Linked DNA regions of Homo sapiens. The protein of the gene in region 1 interacts with the protein of each later gene in a biochemical or structural test. Each region holds a gene or a part of one and is shown on either strand. Other genes may lie near its edges. The genes, in order: DGCR6L and PAK4.

Region 1 (3,629 bases):
AGAGAAGTCTCATCCCAAACTCTGGCTTCCAGCATCATCTGTTCCTGGAGGCCAGGCCCTGCGCAGACCTGGCCACCCAGGGTGCTGGACACCCCCAACCCTGACTCCACAAGGACCCAGCAGGGCCCATGGGCCCAGGCCAGCACGGAGGGGACTCATGCAGATGCAGAAGCCAAGCTCCCCAGGTGGCCCTGGCATGCCTCCCCGCAGGGCTCCTCCTCAGGCCATTCCTGCCACCCTGAGTCCTCTATCCCAGTGACCTGCATCAGGCTCCTCCTAGTGGTTCCCACAGGACACTGACCAGGCTGCGGCAGGCGCATACTTGCACTCCGGGCCTTCTCCCATGCTCTCCAGCCCCCAGCCCCACAAAGCAGGCTGGATGTGGTCCTCATGCCCTGGGGCTTGGATGGGGGCCCCTGTACAGATGGCAGTGACAGCATCCTGGGACCAGGGCTGGGGCAGGAAAGGCTGGAGGGTCCCAGTCTCCAGGCAGGGGGAGGGGTGGTGGGCTGGGCACACAGCCCAGGAAGGGGCCCCCAGGTAGAGGCCTCTGCTGCAACAGAGGTGGGGGCCCTACCAGGGCCCCGGTTATGGCAGAACCTGCAGCTATCACACAAGCCACATTTGGGCCACACTGAGGCATCTTTATTTCTCTGGGTCACACAGAGCTTGGGCCTGGGAGCCTCTTCTGCATGGGGGCTGCAGCTGCCAAGGGAGCGGCTGAGACCAGAACAAGCGCTCGGGTGGGCCCCAGTGCAGGTTGGGATGTGCCCGGTGGAGTAAGGTGTGAGAACCCCCAGCCTCACTCTCTGCCTGGTCCTGAAGCAGACAGCAGCAGGCTGGCCCAGCCTCCCCTTTATGAGACTATCCTAGGGTTTGACAGCAAGTCCCAGATGAAGGGTGACAGGCAGCTGGGGTCCACCTGGTCTCTCCTCAGCAGGGGGAACCCCCTGCGGGCAGCTGGGAAGGCAGTGGCCAAAGGTCAAGAAGATGAACTCTGCCCAGACTTCTGCTGCCTGTGGCTATGGTGGGACAGGGCTGCCTTTCTGGTCACACTGGGCAGCAGGCGACTGCCAGGGACCTCCCAGTCCCAGGGCTGCATTCCCTGCCCGGCAGCCCCTCTGCTGCAGCTTTCGGATGAGTTCCAGCAGGTTCATCTGCAGCATCAGCTCCTGGGATACAGAGGGGCCCCATGAAGGCCAGAGTGACCCCCAGGCCCCTTTCATCCCGGCCCAAGGGTGCCAGGCAGTGAGCCCACGGGGGCGACCATCCTGTGAAGCCTGGTCATGGCCTGCCAGGACAGGGTGGAATCTGAGCTTCTGCCCCCAACAGGGCCACTCGGAATCTGAGCCTCTGCCCCCAGCAGGGCCACTCGGAATCTGAGCCTCTGCCCCCAGCAGGGCCACTCGGAATGGCATGCGGGAGGGGAGCAGAAGAGGGCCCTGTGTGGCACAGCAGGCCTGGAGAGGGTGGGCAGTGCCCATGGCTGGCTGGCTCACCCTCCTGTAGGGAATGGGCCTGGCCTCCGTGCTGGGAATGGCACAGAAATCCTTTCCAGAGCCTCAATCCTTCCACTTCACCCCCATACCCTGAGCCTGGCTCCCCAGGGACCAGCAGTAAAACCCCAGATGGAATGGGGCCCCGGGGCACTCGGGCTAGGGCAGAGCAGGCCCAGGCACTGACCTGTGGGTTGGTGGTCACGTAGAAGCCAGCCACCCCCGCCTTCTCCAGTGTGCTCTGCTGGTCAGCCACCTTCCGGTCCAGCTCCAGGATGATCTTCTGGTCCATCGCCCGCTGCTCCTCACGGATCCGGTGTTCCACGGCCTGCCATGGGGCCAGGGCGCGGAGGGGGAGAGGTGAGGGCAGCTCTGCCATCAGGGGGCGGGGAGGTGAGGGCAGCTCAAACACATGCTCCTGCTGCCGTCCCCAGTGGCAGCAGCTCTGACACCACCGGTGCATCCTCACCACACCCAGGCCTCTCCTCGGCCATGTGAACCCCTGAAGGGGGCCCCAAGGGGCTTCCACGAATGCCCTGGCTTGGGACTGCCTTAGGACCACACACACATCTCCACAGGCACACCCTGCCCCACGGCTTGTTGGTTACATGCCAGTCTCTGGTTGTCCCTGTGCTCCCTGGGAGAAGGATGGGCCCCTTCCTGGCCCCAACACCCTACCATTGCCTTTGTACCCCCCTGAGGCCACCTGCTCTGTGGAGGCCCAAACCCACGAGGAGCTGCTATCCAGGGGAGCACTGGTGGGTTCTCAACCTCCACCCAGCCCCAGCACACTTGGTATCCGCAAAGAGGAGCCACCTGGTGGGACTCACTAGGCCTCCAGTGTCCCACTCAGGCCCAGGACAGCCACCCATGCCTGAGCCCCCACACCCCTTCAGCTCAGCCCAGTCAGCAGAGCCAGGTGGTGCCCACAGGAGAGCTGGGCCGGCCACCCTGCCTGCGCCCCCAGTACCTCTAGTTCTCGCTGCTGAGCCGCCTGAACCACAGGCAGGTTGTGGGGCCGGCAGGCCTGCTGGGCTTCCTGGTGCTTCTGCCGCAGCGCCTGCCTGAGCACTGGGAGGGATGAGAGCCCGTCAGCAGGCGGTGGGACTCGGCAGCAGCCCTCACCCATGGGCACCTGCCTTGCCAGCCCAGCAGAGCAGCCAGGCCAAAGGGGTGTCTGCAGTGGGGAGGATGCCAGCCTCCTCCATCCTCCCACCCCACTGTCACCCAGGGCCGGGCCCTTATCTGGTGGCAAGTCTCCAGGGGACTCCAGAAGGTGCGGGGCACTGAAAGAGTGGGGTGGGGAAGACTGGCCAGGTGGGGCCAAAGCTGCAGCCCCAGACCCAGGGCAGCTGGAGGAGGCAGGCGGGAGGGAGGCTGCAGTCTGAGGGCTTCAGGGCCCCCATGGCCACAGGCCATGAGACATCTACTCAAGTGTCAGAGACCACCTCAGGCAAAGGCATGGGAAAGGAGCAGGAGGAGCGGGGTCGCTGACCCTGAGCGTGGGGCCTCTGCCTACCAGGGGTGTGGTCGGGCCCTCCACCCTCAGTGCTGCCCTTCAGGGTAGACAGCCCCTCCCTCATTTGCAGCTCCCAGCCCCCGCACAGCGCCAGAGGGAGAAGGGTGGGCAGACCTGGGAGGCCCAAGTTTGGGATGAGCTTGGGGTGCCATAAGCCTGTGTGGCTCTGAGGGGCTCACCCTCAGCCATCAAGTAAAGCTCCACGGTCCTTGCTAAACTGTGCACAAACACAGATGTGTGCAAACTGTCTGGTCTGAAGGGAATGTACAGAGGAAGCGATCATGGGACATAAACCACCATGAAACAGAACATGCAGCACCCCACAGCTGGCGCCAGTGACCAGTAAGTGCCAAATGGCTACAGCTCCCCAGGAGGGAGGGGTCCCTGGCCAAAAGAAAAGGTGAAACCCAACACTCTGTTCCTGGGAAGAGCCCTGATGTTGCAGCTCTTCTCTGGTGGCCAGTCCCCAGGGAACTCCAGGGCCCCTGAGGCTCCCCTGCAGGTAGCCTGGCTCCCGCTGTGCCTACAGCCTTCCCCGATCTCCTGTCTCTTCACATTCTGTACACACCTCGACGATGGTATTTACCAAAAGCCCCCCTCAAGACAGCTCCATA
Region 2 (3,806 bases), on another chromosome or scaffold:
GATGTCCCTCCACCCCCTTTGGCCCCATGCCCAGCCCAGGCCTCTTCATCGTGAACCTGTCGCCCCGCCCCATCCCGCTCCCTCCCCACTGCGGGGCACTAGGCAGTTCCCAGAGCCACGGGAAGAGGATCAGCCATGTGACCCCTCACTAAGCCCGGAGGGCGGACAGCGGGGCAGACCCTGAGGTGGGGGACACCTGGGGACGGGGCAAGAGCAGCCTGGAGGGCGGGCGGCTGGCCCAGCTGGCAGCATGGGGTCTGGGGGATGTCCTCCGACGCCTGGCCTCCTGCCCTCCCACCCATAAACCCCCAAGGGAAGGGGGCAAGGGGCACGCCTCCGGATATTTGCCTGGGGCCACCCCTTCCCTCTGGGCACTGCACAGAGGGCAGGACAAACAGAGGAACTGAACATGTTTATAATGACCAGGCAGGGACCCCACCCTGGGCCGTCCTGTGCAGCTCCAAGCCCTGCCGGCTTCCCCAGCAGGCGCTCCCTTCCCAACAGATGCTCCTGACCTCATGGGGGCCACAGAGGCCGTGCCAGGCCTGGGAAGAGGGAGAAGAGCTAGGCAGAAAGGCTGGGCTTGCCCAGGTGCAGGGAGGGAAGGGTGGGGGCTGGGCTCCCAGGCCAGCTCCAAGCTTGGCAGTCAGGCTGCCTAGGGCTCCAAACCCCAGCAGGGCTGCCACGACTGGCCCTATATGACCTCACTTTCTGTGTCTGTGAACTGGAGCTCTAACCCAACCTGGGGACCTCAATATGTGGCCCTGGGTGAGCAACTCAGCCACGCTGTGCCTCAGTTTCCTCCTCTGTTCAAAGACGGCGATAATAGTAGCTGCTTCGTGGAGTATTTATTTATTTATTTTAAACGGAGTCTTGCTCTGTCGCCCAGGCTGGAGTGCAGTGGTGCGATCTTGGCTCACTGCAACCTCCGCCTCCCGGCTTCAAGCAATTCTCCTGCCTCAGCCTCCCAAGTAGCTGGGATTACAGGCGCCTGCCACCACGCCCAGCTAATTTTTGTATTTTTAGTAGAGATGGGGTTTCACCATGTTGGCCAGGCTGGTCTGACCTCTAGTGATCTGCCTTGGCTTCCCAAAGTGTTAGGATTACAGGCGTGAGCCCTGCGCCTGGCCTTCCTGGAGTTTTTATAAGGAATTACGCAGAACAGAGGGCACGGAGGGCCTGGCCCAGAGACAGTGGTTGGGATCAGAACCAAGGCAAATCACACACACAGTAAGTGCTCAGTAAGTGCCGGTCACCATTCCAATAGCAGCCAGCACTTACTGAGTACCTACTGTATACCAGCCCTCTTCCAGGCACTTTACCCGGAGTCCCACATATGATCCTGGAGGGAGGGGCCATTAATAAGCCCCGGATTACAGACAGGGAAAACAAGGCACAGAGGGGGACCTCATTAACCCAGGTGGCCCAGCTAGGGTGGCAGAGTGGACACCAGACTCCAGGCCTGTCTGCAGAGATTCGCGGGTTCCGGCCCTGCTGTGCGTCTAATCCCGTTCCATCCTCACAAGCATCCTCATCCCAATTCATGAATGGGAAAACTGAGGCCCAGAGAAGGGAAGGCCCTTGTCCAGGGCATGGACAGGAGAAGCAGCCAGTGAGAGGCAGACATGAGAAGCAGCCAGGATTTGAACCTGGGCGGTTGTGTATGGAAGGCACTGAAGGCTGGGCTCTTACCTGCCTGTCCTGCTGCCCTGGAGGGCTGAGGTGACACTGTTGGTTTTGTCTATTATTATTTTATTTATTTATTTATTTATTTATTTATTTATTTATTTTGAGAGGGAGTCTTGCTCTGTCGCCCAGGCTGGAGTGCAGTGGTGCAATCTCAGCTCACTGCAACCTCCGCCTCCCGGGTTTGCGCCATTCTCCTGCCTCAGCCTCCCCAGTAGCTGGGACTATAGGTGCCCACCACCATGCCCGGCTAATTTTTTTTTTTTTTTTTTTGTATTTTTAGTAGAGATGGGGTTTCACTGTGTTAGGCAGGATGGTCTCGATCTCCTGACCTCATGATCCACCTGCCTCGGCCTTCCAAAATGCTGGGATTACAGGCGTGAGCCACCGCGCCCGGCCTTATTATTATTATTATTATTATTATCATCATCATCATCATCCTCTCAAGGCTGGTCCTGGCCTCCCCTCTCCCTCCGTTCCCATTCTTTCTGTCTACACCCAGACCTTGCCTTTCCTCTCCTGCCTAGTCTCTGCTGAGTGAGGGTCCCTCCCTCCTGTGTGACCTGTCCTGGACCCCACGGGTAGTGGGAGGAAGCACAAAGTGGGCCCCGGGGCCCCCACCTCCCCAATGGCTGTACACCAGCCTTTCCCATGGGCCTGTGCAGCAGGAAAGATGCTTAAAACCAACCCCTCCCACCAAATGTGGCCTGAGGCTCAGCTCGGTACTCCCACCACCATCGCCACCACCACAAGGGACCCATGGCCCAGAGCAGACGCTGACGCTGAGCTCGCAGGCGCCCTCAACCACGGTGGAGTGGCCATTCTGAGCCCCATTTTGCAGCTGTGGAAACAGAGACTCACAAAGGTAAAATCTCTCACTAAGCTCACCGAGCAGAGCTGGGCCTGGAAGCCAGAGTCCTGCCCATTCCAGAGTCCTGCCCACTCCAGAGTTCACAGCCTTAAACCCTTTGCTGGCCCCCAAAATGCCTCCTCGTGGCCTGAGAGTCCCCACAGGATGCGCCCATCACCATGCTGCCCTCCTCTTCTCCCAAGCACCCCTGTACTCACTGTGCCCTGGCCACACAGGTCCCCCTGCTGTTCCTCAAATCCTAGACATGGTTCCACCTCAGGGCCTTTGCATGGGCGAGTGCCCCACCTGGAACTCTCCTCTCACTGATCTCCCACCTTCCCTGACTTCCCAGGCCCGCCTGTGCTCACAAGCCCTGCTCCTGTCCTGTCGCCCTCTACACCTGTCTCTGCTTTATCTTTCCTCAGGGCTCTTACCACATATATGGCGTGCTTGTGTGTGTGTGTATAATTCTTTTTTTTTTTTTTTTTTTTTGAGACAGAGTTTCACTCTTGTTGCCCAGGCTGGAGTGCAATGGCATGATCTTGGCTCACTGCAACCTCCGCCTAGTGGGTTCATGTGCTTCTCCTGCCTCAGCCTCCCAAGAAGCTGGGATTACAGGCGTCCGCCACCATACCCGGCTAATTTATGTATTCTTAGTAGAGATGGGGTTTTACCATGTTGGCCAGGCTGGTCTTGAACTCCTCACCTCAGGTGATCCACCTGCCTCAGCCTCCCAAAGTGTTGGGATTACAGGCGTGAGCCACCGGGCCCAGCCATATGTGTAATTCTTTAGCATCTGCCTCTCCCTTAGAATGTGTCAGCTTCACAGGGCAGGGACTGTCCTCTGTCTTACCCCCTCGTAGCCCAGGGCAGCACACAGTAGGGACTCCGTGGAATGATCGTCCCTGTCCGCTGCATTATTCCCCTGCTCAGAGGCCTTGGACAAGGCCCAGCAGCACCCGGGAAATCTTTCAGATAAGCAGCTGGGACCTGGGGGCAGTAGTCCCAGAGCAGCAGGAAGGTGCAGCCTTCTGCCCCAGCCGGGGCACAGATGCCTCTGAAGTCCAGTATTTGATCCCAGAAATGCAAGCGCATTTTGTATCCTACTCTAAAATGTTTATTTCAAATTTTAAAAAATCTTTTGAATTCTTTAACATGCGGGACAGGCAGCGTTGACCTGGCCTAGCAGACACTTCAGATTTTCCAGTCACCCCCTGCATCCTCTGACCTTTTCTGGGAGGAAAAGGGTCCCACCACCCCCATTCTCCCC

The links.
Region 2: the proteins of DGCR6L (region 1) and PAK4 form a complex in vitro, tested with the Homo sapiens proteins (one study listed by BioGRID).

The regions. Positions count from the first base shown.
Region 1 is NC_000022.11:20,313,653-20,317,281, forward strand, and holds the end of DGCR6L (protein DGCR6L), read right to left. Parts: intron 2,568-3,629; coding exon 2,467-2,567; intron 1,825-2,466; coding exon 1,684-1,824; intron 1,173-1,683; coding exon 1,023-1,172; 3' UTR 586-1,022; downstream 1-585. UniProt on the Homo sapiens protein: May play a role in neural crest cell migration into the third and fourth pharyngeal pouches.
Region 2 is NC_000019.10:39,163,500-39,167,305, reverse strand, and holds part of PAK4 (serine/threonine-protein kinase PAK 4), read right to left. Parts: intron 1-3,806. UniProt on the Homo sapiens protein: Serine/threonine-protein kinase that plays a role in a variety of different signaling pathways including cytoskeleton regulation, cell adhesion turnover, cell migration, growth, proliferation or cell survival.